Regions from separate parts of the Homo sapiens genome. Here region 2 is linked to region 1. A link means that fine-mapping ties the variant in region 1 to the expression of a gene that starts in the linked region. Tissue or cell type: tibial artery. Region 1 holds a variant in brackets; the other region holds the start of a gene. All regions are shown on one strand. Distances are between the middles of the regions.

The links. PIP is the estimated chance that this variant, and not a neighbour inherited with it, causes the effect. A credible set is the group of variants that fine-mapping cannot tell apart.
Region 2: LANCL1-AS1 starts here. The variant in region 1 is the best candidate, but not a certain one, in a credible set for the expression of LANCL1-AS1 in tibial artery (GTEx, PIP 0.77).

Annotation. Positions count from the first base shown.
Region 1 is chr2:210,426,195-210,434,379 of GRCh38, forward strand. LANCL1 (LanC like glutathione S-transferase 1) reads right to left here. Exons shown (of 10, transcript NM_006055.3): 10 at 5,057-8,185. It overlaps LANCL1-AS1 (LANCL1 antisense RNA 1), which reads left to right. Exons shown (of 5, transcript NR_110606.1): 2 at 3,171-3,257. Among named protein-coding and RNA genes, the nearest start is that of LANCL1, 46 kb to the right of the region's middle. RefSeq lists an enhancer at 3,128-4,327. The variant C/T (reference allele first, on the strand shown) is at 4,985.
Region 2 is chr2:210,319,961-210,328,170 of GRCh38, forward strand. It overlaps LANCL1-AS1 (LANCL1 antisense RNA 1), which reads left to right and starts at 4,752. Exons shown (of 5, transcript NR_110606.1): 1 at 4,752-4,874.

The sequences.
Region 1 (8,185 bases):
AAAAAAAATCTCTTAGATCTTTTTAGAATTTGCTGTAACACTTCATTAATTAAATGTATTGAGGGGGAGGATTCCCAAGCTCTGGGCAAAGTTACCAGAATCCAGATTCCTTCTCGAGCTTGAACCAGCATTACACTTTTCTTGGAGTCAAAATGGGAGTTAATATAAGTGTATAAATGACAATTAATGCATTGGACAGTTTGATTGTTCATCCAAATTTTGATATTTCCCACTAACAGCATGTAAGGAAGCGTAACACAACTCTGTATGTGAACAGTCAGGTTGGAGGTAAGTGAAGTCGAACGTCTGGATCTACGTTGATACTGAGAGTGGGGGACGGTAGTGGGGACAACAGACATAATAGTTTCCCCTTCCCATACTCACAGTCTAAACATGGCAATAGCCAATTTCTAAAGTTCTGGGTGTTCTGGGCTCAGAATGGGGAGTATCATATGAGGCCTCGTGGGGGTAATGCCTTTATCTTCCCATTTTAAGGGAATGAGCTGAACCTCCTATGCAAAGTAGAATGATGATTCTCATTCTCCCGATAAGAAATAAAATAAGTAGGCTCCAGGCATTCCCTTCCACCAGAGGAGCAATTGTTTTTTAAATAGCCCTTTGGTGCCCAGTCTATTACTAAGCCATATGAGTCATTTTTTAATACTACTCCATGTGAGTTAAAACACAGTCTTCCCAAATTAAAGTTTTAGATGGGCCCTCAAAATTTTTAGGGCATGGTTTTCCTGCAGGTTTATATTGAAAGTATGGGGTATCTCTCATTACTCCACATGCACTTAGGAAAAAAAGACCATGTGGGGCGCCAGATATCAGGTGAAATTCACCCGATATTTCATGTAGGTTCTTTTTTATTTTCCTTAAGTGTCGGCCGTTCTGAGAAATAAAGGGACAGAGTACAAAAGAGAGAAATTTTAAAGCTGGGTGTCTGGGGGAGATATCACATGTCGGCAGGTTCTGTGATGCCCCCTGAGCCGTAAAACCAGCAAGTTTTTATTAGTGATTTTCAAAGAAGGAAGGAGTGTACAAATAAGGTGTAGGTCACAGAGATCACATGCTTCACAAAGTAATAAAATACCACAAGGCAAATGGAGGCAGGGTGAGATCACAAGACCACAGGACCAAGGCAAAATTAAAATTGCTAATGAAGTTTCAGGCACGCATTGTCATTGATAACATCTTATCAGGAGACAAGGTTTGAGAGCAGACAACCAGTCTGACTAAAATTTATTAGGCAGGAATTTCCTCGTCCTAATAAGCCTAGGAGTGCTACAGGAGACGGAAGCTTATTTCATCCCTTAGCTATGACTGTAAAAGACAGCCGTTCCCAAAGCGGCCATTTCAGAGGCCTCCCCTTAAGGACACATTCTCTTTCTCAAGGATGTTCCTTGCTGAGAAAAAGAATTTAGTGATATTTCTCCTATTTGCTTTTGAAAGAAGAGAAATATGGCTCTGTTCCACCTGGCTCACAGGCAGCGAGATTTTAAGGTTATCTCCCTTGTTCTCTGAACATTGCTGTTTTCTTGTTCTTTTTTCAAGGTGCCCAGATTTCATATTGTTCAAACACACATGCTCTACATACAATTTGTGCAGTTAATGCAATCATCACAAGGTCCTAGGCCGACCTACAGCCTCAGCTTACGAAGATGACAAGATTAAGAGATTAAAGTAAAGACAGGCATAAGAAATCAAAAGAGTATTGATTAAGGAAGTGGTAAGTGTCCATTAAATCTTCACAATTTATGTTCAGAGATTGCAGTAAAGACAGGTGTAAGAAATTATAAAAGTATTACTTTAAAGAACTAATAAATGTCCATGAAATGTTCACAGTTTATGTTCTTCTGCCATGGCTTCAGCCGGTCCCTCCATTCAAGGTCCCTGACTTCCTGCAACAGGGGGCAAAGGACTCTTTGTCTTCAAATTTCCCTCCACCTTGCTCATCATCAAGGTAGTCCAAATGAAAGAACTCTGAGTGCTTCTGGGCTGGCTGATTGGCTTTTAAGTTGTCTTCTTCCTATTAGAGTTCTAAACTCCATCTCCATAGATAGAAACTGCAGGCCATATGAGAGACCCAATATACATGAAGTTATGGAATAATGGGAAGAGTAGTTGGAGTGGTGATAGGATTATTATAATACATTTCCTTGCAATTGCTTATCCAGTCACCTGTCTTCACCAGACTGAGTTGCCAGAGTAGAGATGTCTACCTTATGCAAACAGATCCCCTAGCCAGTACCTTGCACATAAAGATAGCATGTTTAATGAATTTTGGGGATAAATGATTTTAAGGCATTGGTCATGGTATGATTAATAAAATGGCATATCTGCATCATAAAAACTGAAAGTGCCAGCAGTTCAGATTGCATCAGCAAGGGAGGGCATGTTTATTTCTGAATGCTGAATCCTGAGTAAACAATATCATCTTTCACAGTGAGCCACATCAGTATTTTCTGGTTTATAAATGCCTTTCTTAATATCCCAGCTCCATCAAAGAGAAATTAGGCAATTGGAACACTATTTTATAAACTGACTTATAATAAAGTCTCGTGTCTCCCTACATGACTAAGTGCCTCACAAATGCTTTGTCTAACACTTACTTGTTGAGTATTAGAACATTAGTTGCAGACTTAATGTTACCATGTTGTAATTTTCACGTGGTTGAAAAGTTAACATAATGTAGAAATGTGAAATTGAACTGGTCGACTATGAGCAGCAGCCCTGCTAAGATCCATTTCTCAATCCTCATTATTTCAGCTCTTGGCTTATTGTCTTTGCTGCCTTCTCCTATTACTCACAAAACTGCCAAATAAGTCCCTGAGGATGCACTAGCACAGGGCTTCTGGACAATAGTGTTTAGACAGTTTACATCATGGGACCAATAAAGCCAATACGTTTGTCATTGTTACAAAAAAAAGATAAAAACAAGCCTGAGTTCTCGTTTTGTTAATTGACCCACAGCTTTAGAAGGAAGAGGGCAAATTTGGATGAGAAACAATGAGAAAGCAAATTTTCAGGGAACTGACTTGTAGGTTTTCAGTTTAAATGATGCTTAATAGAATAGAGAAGACATGAGAATTTTAATAACTTTGAATCCACAGTGGGAACTATCTTGGAAAAAAAGAATGACATAAAAATTATTATTCTTTTCTATTCAGAGAGTGTGAAGAGGAGGAGAAAGGCTGAAGAGGAGGAGAAAGGCTAAGATCTTTTCCAATGCAAAATTAGGAAAAAATATACTACAGGTAAGTCACAAAAAACAAATATTTTGAAGTTTTCTTCATTCATGAGGTTACAACTGTGGTGCAACTTATTGTGCCTGTCATTATTTTTCTCATAGTAGGAGGATAAGCCAGGGAGCGGTAAACTAGAGCTGGCCTTGCCAATGGAAACTAACCTCGTAGAGTTAGCAGGACCTTTCTAAGCATCATTTTGCAATCTCTGTGTGGCCTTTGCAAGGTAGTGTCCTCTCCATGCCTCACTGCCTACATCTAGAGTCTTGATATTACCATACCTTTACTTCATTCAAATGAGAGAAATAAATGTAACTCTGCATTTATCCTCAGTATTATCAGTCACTCAATAAACAGACTTTGGGTATGAAGGACATTTTAATCATATGTACCAGCACACAAATTGTAATTTAGAGATGAAAACAAGTATTTTATAATTTATCAATCTCTGTTGTGGTAAGTCACACTAACTAGCTGTGTCATAAAAAGCAGTGGCACAAAGTCATCCCAAGTGACTCAGCAAAATTTTTCTAACCTCTGCATATATATTTTATAATTATGCCTCATTTAATCCCCCCCTTTTCTATTCAAAGCAGAATTGATCATCAGGAAAATAAATTTCTAGAATTAGGCCTTTAGTTATTAACCCCACAGTAGATTCATATATTATGAGATGGTTAATACATGTTGTTCTTGAAGGCTAGTAGATTCCTCCTAATTCTATAATGATCAGATTTAAAAATATTTTCCTCTTATAAATCTCTATTTTCAGACAGTAGTGCAAATCTTGTTTTATCCAACAATGAAGAAAAAGGAGCAAAGCCTAGGAAACAGGAGTATATATAGGGAAAAAAAACCTTCACTTGCTGTAGGGAGAACCCCCTGAAACTACTGCTACGGAATAAAAGATGAAATGCTCCTGATTATTGTAAATACAAAGTTGCATGCAGGATTGTGTAAAGACAATGCCAGGTTGGACTGCCAGTATGAGCCAACAGCATGTAATGTGCTTCCCCCTGCAGATAGCCTATGAATGGATCTGCAGTCAGGGAGGTTTCACATCATCACCAAGATTCCTATCCCAGAAAAGCAGATATTCATAGCTCTGGGAATGGAATGCGACCCTTGTGGAGAGCCTATAAATGGACGCATGGGGGGGCGCCTGTCCATATGGATAAGATAGGGCTATAAATGCCCTCATCTTGCCATGGCTCTTCTAGGCCTCTTTAGGGTTAAGGCATACTCCCTTCTGAGAATTTCTGGTCTAACCAGTTGTCTAGCTTCACGTCCTATTTCTATGGATTGTCTGTAACCAGCTTTTGCTGCAACTGTTACTGCTGATTAATATCTTGCTAATCATAGGTTATGGAAAGAATGTGTTTCTGTTTTAAGGCTCTGTTAGAAATTACTGATGCACACACTATATTGTAAATTCTTATCCCTGTATACTGTACTTCTGCATACAAATGTTATGTTAAAGCATTACTTCATCCCCACGTGACCATCTCACCTCATAATCAAATGACCCTAAATTCCTCACTAACCTACCCCTGCCCTCACTAAACTTAATAATAAATGCTGGTATATCCAGCGCATTGTTGGCACCGCAGAACCAGAAGGCGGTGACCCCCCTGGACGCGGCTTTCACTATCTTGTGTGAGTCTATTATTTCTCAACCTACCAATCTGCCTGGGAACAAAGAGAGAGCCCCGTTGCATTGCGGGCTGCTGGCCAGATCC[C/T]GCAATAACTTGCCATTGAGGGAAAATATTTCTCAAGTTTAAACCAAAGCAAACAAAAAGCACATGATGATATATAGTCCTAATAAAATTTTATTGAGAACTAGTAAGTCAAATACTTTACAGAACATAGAAATACATATGATCCCAGCCTTTCCCATTAAATGACAACATAACATTGGGGTAGTTTCCCTGAATATCCCAAACAGTTTGCTTTATAATTAGAGAAACAGTTCGTCTACAGCTCAATAGTAGAGAAAACACAGGAATGAGGTGCTCTTACTTAGCGGAAGCAGAAATGAAATTGGAATTCAGTGTAAATAATAAAGGACTACAGATGAGTTCTAGCAGCCAAAGGAGTATACATGTAAATAGTCACTCTTCACATTTTCTATTTCTAAAGTAGCTAGTAAAAGGCAGGGCATCGTAAGATCAGACAAAAATTAACCTGAGGACATAGTAGCAGAGTATGTCTCTCAATTCAGTTATTTAGGAAATGTTAATAAAGAAAGTAACCCTAGATCCACTTTTACCTAAAACTCTACCTACCATGAAGGTTTTTGATGCCAAATAATTGGAACTGACATCAAAGATGAAAAGAGAGCCACATGACTCAGGATTAAAGACTGACAACTCAGGCCACACCGCCGTCCATGGTATCTATGGAAATAGGATAATGTTAACTTTTTACATGATGAAAAGTTAACTATTTGCAATTTCTAAATTACTATAGAAACAGAAACATGTGACAGGATAAATGAACACTGCTTGATGACCTTTGACAACCTTTGAAGGTTTTATTACCTAGTCCCTGTATAGAGATAAGAGATGATGGTATTGAGTTTTCTAGGAACCAACTTCTGGGAAAGATTTTTAAAGAAGAAAAATATCTGAGAGAAAAATACAAACTAGAACTGAAACAATGATGCCACTTCCTTTTAAAACTAAGAAGCCTAGTATAAAAGTTTCTTTAGTTACTACCATGTTGTTAGGGGATTGTCTCAGCGTTGTAGGCTTTGCCTGAATTTAAAATCCCATCAAAACTTTTTTGCTCTTAAGCATAAATACAACAAATAGCATACATATAAAATTGTGCCAGTTTAGTAAGTTTTGAAAAGCTTAAAAAAAAACCAAACTCTAATTGTGTTTGTGTGGATGAATTTGCTAACTGATGACAGTAGCTAACCCATTTATGCTGGGGGTTGCAATTTTTTGTGTGAAAAATCAGACCTTGGCAATGACTTTGAGCAGTAGGATGTAAATGACTCCCACAAGCTTAGCATTCCAATAATGGAACACTAGGCATAAATGGGTTAACAAGAATCTTATTTGAAATGTTCTTCTCCCTGCCTTGAAATCTTCCTGGGGTTAAGCATTGCTATCACGATGCTTGGAGAACTGTGATCAAGTCTTCTCTGGCTCAGAGAAACTGTTATTTTTCCCTTGCTTAGTAACGCAGCTAAAAGCATAGGCACAGTAGAGTAAGACATTTAACTAAACCAAATGAGCTTTATTCTTTCAAGCTGAACACCCCAGGCAAAGGCAAATTAGCTTTGCTGTGCACTACTTTTACTTCTTACTGTAAGTGCTGATATCGCTGATTGAAAACTTTCACAAGAAAGGCAGAGCATGCACATGCTTACCAGCAGCACTTCAGCAATCTGAGAGGCACAAGGTAGTGCCAACTTACACAAGTGACAGAAGGAGGAAGCTGATCCTGGAAACTGAGCAGTGGGCTGCTTTTTAAATCCTACTGCCAGTGGCCTTTAAAAGGTCAGTTTCCAATAATATTAGCTCTTTTGGTGCTAAACAGGAGATAATAGGAGACTGCTACCTGCAGGAACCAGTACACACTCAGTGGGGATTTGGTTTGAAGTTCCAATAAAAATAGCATGTTTTTGTGACCAAGAGAGCTGTGAAATAGGCACATTTAAAATACTTAGACCCTGTTATTTTAAAGCTACAATTTTTTTTTGCAAAATCAGTTGCAAAGAGACAAAACAAGCCAGGCAAAGGCAGTAATAGAAAGAGTAGAAGCTGATGAGTCAAAACACTTGAACAGAATTTGAAGCACCAGAGAGTCTTTATCTACTACGGAAAACCTGATTCTGTGGTCTCAGAAACTGATGAATTGTTAAGTCTAGGATACGCAAAGATGCATTTGTTCTAAGCATGAACTCTGGATAATACCTCCTCAATAAAAAGCATTTCTATTAAATGCTTAGTTTAGTGTTTTTGTTCAAGTTATTGGTTAGATAGTATTCCCTTTCTCATCTCCCCTTTTTAAACAGAAGTAGAATACTGTACAATTTAGTGAAAAGACCAAAGTTCAGATAAATTGATAGGAAGGAAAATATTTTATGGCTTATACCAAAGAGTCAGCACTAATGCATAGTCACTGTAAAAACCCAAGTTAAAGTTTAGAAAGTCAGTCAGAGTGGACTGAAATCCTAGGTTAAAGCATATTCATACATAGAAAATTGGCTTCCTGATCTTATTTGAATACTGAAAAACACACATATTTAAATAAAGAGTTCCAAAAAACTCAGATTATTTTAGAGAAAACACAGACTGTTATTGTTAGCTTATCTTAAACTAACCTTCAACTCAGAATTTTCACAATGATCATCATGTTTTATAAGTTTTTGATTAAAAATGTTGGCTTCTGAAGGCTGTATGCCTTACCGACAAAAACAGGCCAATCTGAAAGTATGTTTACCTCTAGTCCAAATAGGCATCAAGAATTTAAAAAATGATATTTAGGTACCAAGTCCAGATTGTAACTCTTGGAATTTTTCTCCTGGAAGCATTTAGTTATATTTCTGTCCCCTTTCAAAATGAACCACCTAGAGAAAAGCAAGTCAGAAAATTGTCTGCCCTCCAGTTGGAGGAAAAATATTAAAGAGAAGTGAAGTGTAATACCCAATAATAGTCACATATTTATCTTTATCTGTATTGAGTTTCTTTTAAACATTTTTAGAACAGTAACAGATGGTTATATTCATAAACTTAAATAAGATTTCCTCCAAGTTCTGGAATATATGTATACAATCTCAAAACACTGTACATATCACTCACTCTCCCTTTAGGAAGAAATGGAAATTAAAGTTAAAAGACTTCCTTGGATACTTCTAAGTAAAAGTAAATGATAATGGAAGGGAACTGAATGAAAGATAAATTCTGAAAAAAGCTAACAAAATCAAG
Region 2 (8,210 bases), 110 kb before region 1:
GCTTTTTCATTTTTGTGAGTTTTTTTGATATAATGAGGTACTATATTAGGTTTAAAGGCTTGTATTAATTCACTTTGTCATAGAGCAAAATAAGAATTTAAGTGTGTGAATTAACATGTGTGTGTCTGTGTGTGCATACTTGTGTTAATAGTTATTTCTGAGTGGTAGAATTATGAGTTAATTTTATTTGCTAATCTATATTTTTATTTTTCTTCTGTGACTACACTTTGCTTATACAATAAATAAATAATAAAATAAAAAAGTTAAAAAGCCAACAATAAAGATTAAATATGAGCACAACCATATGTAAAAGCCAACTTGTCAAACCTTCAATTAAGACTCAGGATTTTTTCCCCTTACATTTACATAAATCAGTTCATGTGTGTATGATATCTACTTGAAAACTTTCCAATAGTAAGCAGTTGAAGTAAGTGGCTTTCACATTATTTAACGACACCACAGTTCCTCCTCTAGATTTGGGCCCTAAGTTGACACATCCACTATCTCCAATAATTTGCTTACCAAAGTTCTTCGGTCAGCTAAGGTTTATTTCCTCCCCTGAGCTGTCTGTAAGTCACAATCCACATTTGGTGGATGAGATCTATATAGAAACTATGTCTTCTTATTGGCTTTTTCCCCCTTAACAAATTGAGTAAAAAGTAGAGTTCATGGTTCTGAATCTCCCAAGCCCTAATAAGTAGCATTTATTAGACCACACATTTTTCCAATTTCAACTTGCCTCAAGAATCAGGCTGCATTTGTGATTGATTCAGAGAATAATTATGGAGTTCATAAAGCCCAACCTCAAAGCTAAAGCAAATAGTAGGTGGTTGAATTATTTTTCTATTAGTATATTGATTTAGTGAGATCTGGTTTACGTCTAGCTACTAGCTGTGTGACTACTGACAATTATTTTAGCTTCAGAGAGGCTTAAATACAAAATTAGAGGAATGGATAGGGTAAGATCCCAGCATCTCATTTTTACTGCAAAGTTCTATGGTTTTTGCTTTTTGAAAAGTATATTATTAGTGGCCATCTGTTGAGGGTTAACGTATTCCATGTCCTTTAATCCCCACAACAATTCTGAGGTAGGTATTATTTCACTTTATGGATAAAAAGACTCAGAGGTAAAGTTACATGCTAGTTACCCACAGTAAAAGTGTTAAAAACAAGCCAGCCGTGGTGTGCACACCCATAGTCCCAGCTACTTGAAGGGAGGCTGAGGCAAGAGGATCGCTTGAGCTTAGGAGTTGGAGGCTGCAGTGAGTCACGATTGTTCCACTGCAGTCTAGCCTGGGCAACAGAGTGAGACCCTGTCTCAAAAAACAAACAAAAACACCCATAAAACAAAAAAAAGTGTCAAAAACAGAAGTAGAACCCGGTTTTAATGAAATCTAAACCCTACTGCTTCCTAATGACTAAGGGAAGGATAATGACATGTGAAAAACAACAAGGATCACACCTCAGCTATTCAGTTGTAGTAGAATTAAATTTTGCCTTGTTAAAAAAAAATGATCCAGCCAGGCACAGTGGCTTATGCCTGTAATCCCAGCACTTTAGGAGGCCAAGGCAGGTGGATCATGAGGTCAGGAGTTTGAGACCAGCCTGGCTAACATGGTGAAACCCTGTTTCTACTAAAATATGAAAAATTAGTTGGGCGTGGTGGCAGGTGCCTGTAATCCCAGCTACTTTGGAGGCTGAGGCAGGAGAATCATTTGAACCCAGGAAGCAGAGGTTGCAGTGAGCTGAGATTGCACCATTGTACTCCATCCTGGGTGACAGGGTGAGACTCTGTCTCAAAAATAAATTTTAAAAAAAAGATCCAACTGAAGGTTATGTTTCAGAAGAAGAGGGCCTCAAAGAAGCAAAAGAATTACTGGAATGTTAGCAATGCCAAAGGCAGGGAGATCTTGGGTATACTGTAAATCACAAATTGGAAGAATGCACAATAACTGATCATAAGCCTAGCACTTATCTGAGAAAAGTTTATGTATGTCATTATTCATTAATGGAATCATCACATTTGGAACTTACAAGATGAACTCCTAACAATGGCCAACAAGGCTGGATTTGATCTAGTCTCCACCTGTCTCCCTGAACTCCTCTCAGAGTTCTCTCCACCTTTTTGGTTATATTCTGGCCATTCTGACCTTCTCTCCTAAGGGCCTGACATTGCTGTACTATTTTCTCAGAACACTTTTTCTATATATTCTTTCATGGCTACTACCTAAGATCACTTCGATTTTAATCCAGATGTTACTTTCTCTGAAAGACCTAATGGAATCATGCTATATTAAGTAACCCCTCCTCTGGTTATTACTTAGTCTAGCATCTGTTTTTATTATTCTCATGGACTTTATAATTTTTGAATTTTTATTTGTTTTCTAATACATTTAGGAAGTGAGCTTTATCAGATCAGGGACTCATCTTTCTTGTTCTCCAATGACTCTCCAGCTCCCAACTCACAGTAAGCTGAAAACATTTTTTTAATGGAATGGATGAATAAATGAATGAAAGAATGTTACGGGTTTTGGTGTTGGCAGATATACTTAAATGATTCAAGACAGTTTGGAGCCCCAAAATCTGAGCAAGAGAAAGAATTTGAATATTTGAATAGTTAGAAGAGAGAATGAGGATGAACAAAATTGACTATTAGAACCCATTCTGAAAAGTTAATGGCTTTGGCAGTACTTAGTTGAAGGAAGAAAAAGGTGGCTTAAAAGCAATTTTAATTAATAAAATGTTGCTATTAAGAGAATAGTCGTCAGCTGTTCTTTATATGAAACTAACAGGGATGAGTGAAATAATTTTCGGTTAAAAATAAATAACTTTCTAACTGGGGATTATGAGGTACTCCAAAAATATTTTAAAATGTAAACTGTTTCCTTTTAAGAATAAATGGGTGTTTAAGTGCAAACTTGATAAAGGACTGGGACTGGATAATAAAGATGATTTTTTAAAATGTTTACACTCCTTTCGTCACTAAGTTTTTAACTAGTATTGTTTCTTTAACAGTTAATAAATCCAATACTTGTGTAAGTGAAGACTGGTATTTTTCTTCTTTTGCTCTCAGAGTTACCTTGTTAGAGGTCATGATATATCCAGGGCCAAGCTGGAACCAGTGCTCCGGAATCTTGTTTTATGAAGCAGATAGTAAGTCATGTAGAAATTGAGTCAGCGTGATTCTTTACATGGTTAACATGCTGCTTCCCCTGGAGGTGGGGGTGTAGGATTTCTCAAGGAAGGACATTTATAGTGATTAAAATTGCTCAGAGATTGCTTCACTGGGTAATTCTGATGCTGTAGTATGTGATTCTGGCAAGAGAGAGGGAGTATGAAAGGGACAGAAAATCCCAGACCATGGCAAGAAAGGGCACACGATGCAGAGACTACCTCAAGAAAAGGGGCTGTGGCAGTAAGAAAACAGTAACCGAATGGTCAGACTATTGATCAGAAATCCTTCTTGGTTGCCTCCTGAGAAGGAATTGAGAGCATAAATGTCCAAGGGCAATGACTGCCCATTAACTCACCATCATCCTACAATATTTAGCATAGTTCCAAGAACAAACTGGCAAAAGAGATTTTGGCAGCTGATATTTTTCTGGGAAATTAAGTGGAAAGCACCCTCCAGGACAAAAAGGCCAAGAATAAATACTAAACATGTGCATATCTTAAAAGCCAACAATTTCACTCATAGTCATGTGTCCCCCACAAATGTGTATGTATATGCATAAAGATGTACATAGGTTGGGCACGGTGGCTCACGCCTGTAATCCCAGCACTTTGGGAGGCTGAGGTGGGTGGATCACCTGAGGTCAGGAGTTCGAGGTCAGCCTGACCAACATGGCAAAACCCTGTCTCTATTAAAAATACAAAAATTTAGCGAGGTGTGGTGGTGGGCACCTATAATCCCAGCTACTTGGGAGGCTGAGGCAGGAGAATTGCTTGAACCCGGGAGGCAGAAGTCACAGTGAGCTGAGATCACACCATTGCACTCCAGCCTGGGCAACAAGAGCAAGACTCTGTCTCAAAAAAAATGTACATAAACATTTTTAGCAATGATATTCATAATTGCACAAAACTGGAAACAACCCAAATGCCCATTAGCAATAAAATGGATAGAATATCATATATCCTTGTGATGGAACACTACACAGCAATAAGAATGAACAAACTACAGGTACATGTAATAAGATAGATCAGTGTCACACAGTGTTATGGTTCCATTTATATAAAGTTCAAGACCAAGAGAAACTACCTGATGGTATTCGAAGACAGGATAGTAGTAGAGAGGAGTGTTGGGTAGTGGAGAGGAAGGTCAGGTAGTGAAGGAGCTGGTGTTTACATGAATTTGTTGAAGGAGCTGGTGGTTACATGAATTTGTTCACTTTGTGATAATTCATCAAGTTGTACACTTAAGATTTCTGCATTTTTCCAAATGTATGTTATGCTTTAATACAAAGTTTGATAGGGAGAAGAAATAATACTGCCTTCCAAAGTAAAATGAATGACATTGGGTGGGATAAAAAAAACAGAGGGACCCTGTGTCAAGCCTGTCTTAGGGTCTTCAGACAGCATGAGTCTCGCTGTCTCCATTTTGAAGATGGGCAACAACTGCAGGGATAAGAATAGCCCATGGCTGACAGTGCATTTGCTTCTACTTGTCCTGGTCAAGGTTTTCTAATTCGGGCCCAAGAGAGTATTCATGTCTCCAGGAGGCCACCCTATGGCACGTTAGGCATTCTTGAGAGACTGGCGGCCTCAGTCCTTGTGTTTGGAGCAGTTCTGCTAGAGGAGGAAACAGCACAAAGGGCACTCTTATGCTGCTGTAAACCAGTGCCAGGATTTTTAAAATGTGAGACACCTGTTACCCTGTAAGTATTAATTTCAACTTGAGGTCTCTAGCTTTTTAATTTGCTGGATACATTCTTTTATATGAAATGTGATGGGCATTTCTGACGTGGAAGAAATTGGGACCAGTAAAGCCGGGAAGAAAGCAAAATGGGGTAGCAGGGGCCCTTTTCTCAGCTTCTAATGAAATATTTGTAGTCAAGACCAAGCACACATATTGATTCTCATCAAGTGTGAAATCGTTGGCGGCCCTGGAGGTGAGCCCCACGGGACCATTTGTACCGCACTCTTTCAAATGAACAGATTAAATCTCTCGTAAGATGCTGTTTTTGACACACTCGTACTGCATATATTAAAATCCTCCCTGGTGCCCTTTTGGCGGTTAGGATTCAGGTAGTTCCAGTGCATCACAGCCTGTGTACCAGCTGGAAAGGATATTTTTTTTTTCTTCCCTGGAATGTGTAAAGGAAGAATTATATTGCTGTTTGTTGAAAGAGACTATATGTCTCGCAAGTCCCACTTCAATAATCTTCTAGAAGCAAGAATGAATTTGGGATTGGAAAGGGCATTACAACATGGCTAAATAAATAGCAAGGGGTCTCTCAACACCTGGTTAGCCTGCAATGTTACAATATGACTTCTAGGTCTTACATTTCAGTCTCTTTCTTCAGCAAACAGAGTCTGAAAGGTCTTACACAAAGACAGAATTTTAAGTCTGAACACTCAAGAAATGTGGTCTTCACACTCTAAAGCTGTCACTAATTCCTTGAGAAGCACCAGAAACTTTCTGACTAAACCTTTTTATGTCTTCAATAATGGTTAAATCCAATATACCTTAGGGTTTCCCTCAGATTTAGTCTTCATATTCTTTAGCTTTTGCTAAAGAATTTTAGCAAAATTTCTTATTTTGCATTTCTCTAGCTTCATGACTGGGCTGTCATCATAGGTATATAAGACCATGTACAGGGCTGTGCATTAATATTGCAAGTCTGGAAATTCCAGATATCTTGGCAAAGGGAGAAACAACTTGTGGTTGGAGCTTGGAGGATGAGGAACCAACAAGTTCTGAGTCCTCATGTCTTATGCTTAGGCTGATTCCATTTCTTCCCTCAAATTGTAAATATTTATTTAGGTGTAAAGGAGAGGGCCTATCTAAAGCAGACTGGTGTGTGAGTAGAGTTATTTTCATAGTGTGTCCTCTCCCAGTGATTTATGTTTCCTAGAATATTGATGAAAAATGGATGAGCTCCCGCAACATCTCCTGCCACTCTCCCCCTCACATATTGGACTACAGACATTCTGGCCTTCTTCAGTTCATTCTTTAGTATGATATGCTGTTCTTTCTTCCTGAATTGTTCTTCTAATCTTTCTTTGAATGAATGTTTTTATTCCCTTTCAAGTCTTACCTTAGAAGTAAGTCCTCTCTTCAGAAGGGTCTTACTTATCACCCTATCTAAAGTAGGTTCCACTCCTCTCATCCCATATTGCAATACTTCATTTGGTGGACTCATAGCTTATAATAATTGAATCATTTATTGATTATTGTCCTCACTTAGACTATAAATTCCATGAGACAGTGCTCATGGTTATATTGTTTACTGAATTGATTCTACCTAAGTGTCTATCAACAGAGAAATGGATGTTTGGATAGTGCTATTGTCCTATTGCCATTGTGACAAGGGCTCAGATAAACATGCAAGTGCACATATTCATGTACTGATTTCTTTTTCCTTTGGATAAATACTCAGAAGTAGGATTGCTGGATTGTATGGTAGTTCTATTTTTTGGTTTTTAAAGAAATCGTCATACTATTTTTCATAGTGGTTGTACTAATTTACCTTCCCATCAACAGTGTTTAAGAGTTTCCTTTTCTCTGCATTCTCACCAGAATCTGATATTTTTCATCTTTTTAATGACAGCCATTCTAACTGGAGTAAGATGATATCTCATTGTGGTTTCCATTTGCATTTCTCTGATGCATAGTGATGTTGGGTATTTTTTCATATACCATTTGTATATGGCCATTTGTGTGCCTTACTTTCAGAAATATCTGTTCATATCCTTTGCCCACTTTTTAATATGATTATTTGTGGGGTTTTTTTTGGTTGTTGAATTGTTTGAGTTCCTTGATATTCTGGATATTAATGCCTTGTTGGATGAATAGCTTACAAATATTTTCTCCCATTTTACAGGTTGTCTTTTCACTCTCTTGGTTGTTTCTTTTGATATGCAGAAGCTTTTTGGTTTAATATGCTACCATTTGTCTATTTTAGTTTTTGTTGCCTGTGATTTTGAGGTCTTAGGTGTAAGATCTTTGCCCGGACCAATGTACTGAAGAGTTTTCCCTCTGTTTTCTTCTAGTAGTTTTATAGTTTTAAGTGTTTAAGTCTATAATGTACCTTGAATTAATATGTGATGTAGTGAAGATAGGGGCTTAGATAGAAGATACCTATATTCTTCTGCATGTAGATATCCAAATTTCCCATCACCATTAATTGAAGATACTGTCATTTCCCCAATGGATGTTCTTGGCACATTTGTCAAAAATCAGTAGGCTGTAAATACATGGATTTATTTCTGGATTCTCTATTTTTTTTTTTCTTTCCTGAGAGAGAGTCTTGCTCTGTTGCCCAGGCTGGAGTACAGAGGCAAATCTCAGCTCACTGCAACCTTCGTCTCATAGGTTTAAGCGATTCTCCTGCCTCTCCCTCCTGAGTAGCTGGGATTACAGGTGCATACCACCATGCCTGGCTAATTTTTTGTATTTTTAGTAGAGACGGGTTTTTGCCACGTTGGCCAGACTGAGCTCAAACTCCTGGCCTTAAGTGATCTGCCTGCCTCGGGTTCCCAAAGTTCTGGGATTACAGGCATGAGCCATCGCACCTGGCCTGGATTCTCCATTCTATTCCATTAGTCTATGTAACTGTTTTTATACTAATACTATGCTGTTTTAGTTAAAGTCTTGTAATATATATTAAAATCAGGTAAGGTGATGCCCCTAGCTTTGTTCTTTTTGTTCATGTTGCTTTGGTTTTTGGGCTCTTACTTGGCCCCATGAAAATTTTAGGATTGTTTTTTCTAATTCTGTGAAAAATGACATTGGTATTTTGATAGGGATTCCATTGAAACTGTTGATTGCTTTGGGCAGCATGGCCATTTTAACAATATTAATTCTTCTGATCCATGAGCATGAAATGTATTTCCATTTTTTTGTGTTCTCTTCAATTTATTTCACCAGTACTTTATAGTTTTCCTTGTACAGGTCTTTTATCTTAGTTAAATTTATTCCTAGGTATTTCATTATCTTCTTGTAGCTATTATAAGTGGTATTGCATTCTTAATTTCTTTCTCAGCTACTT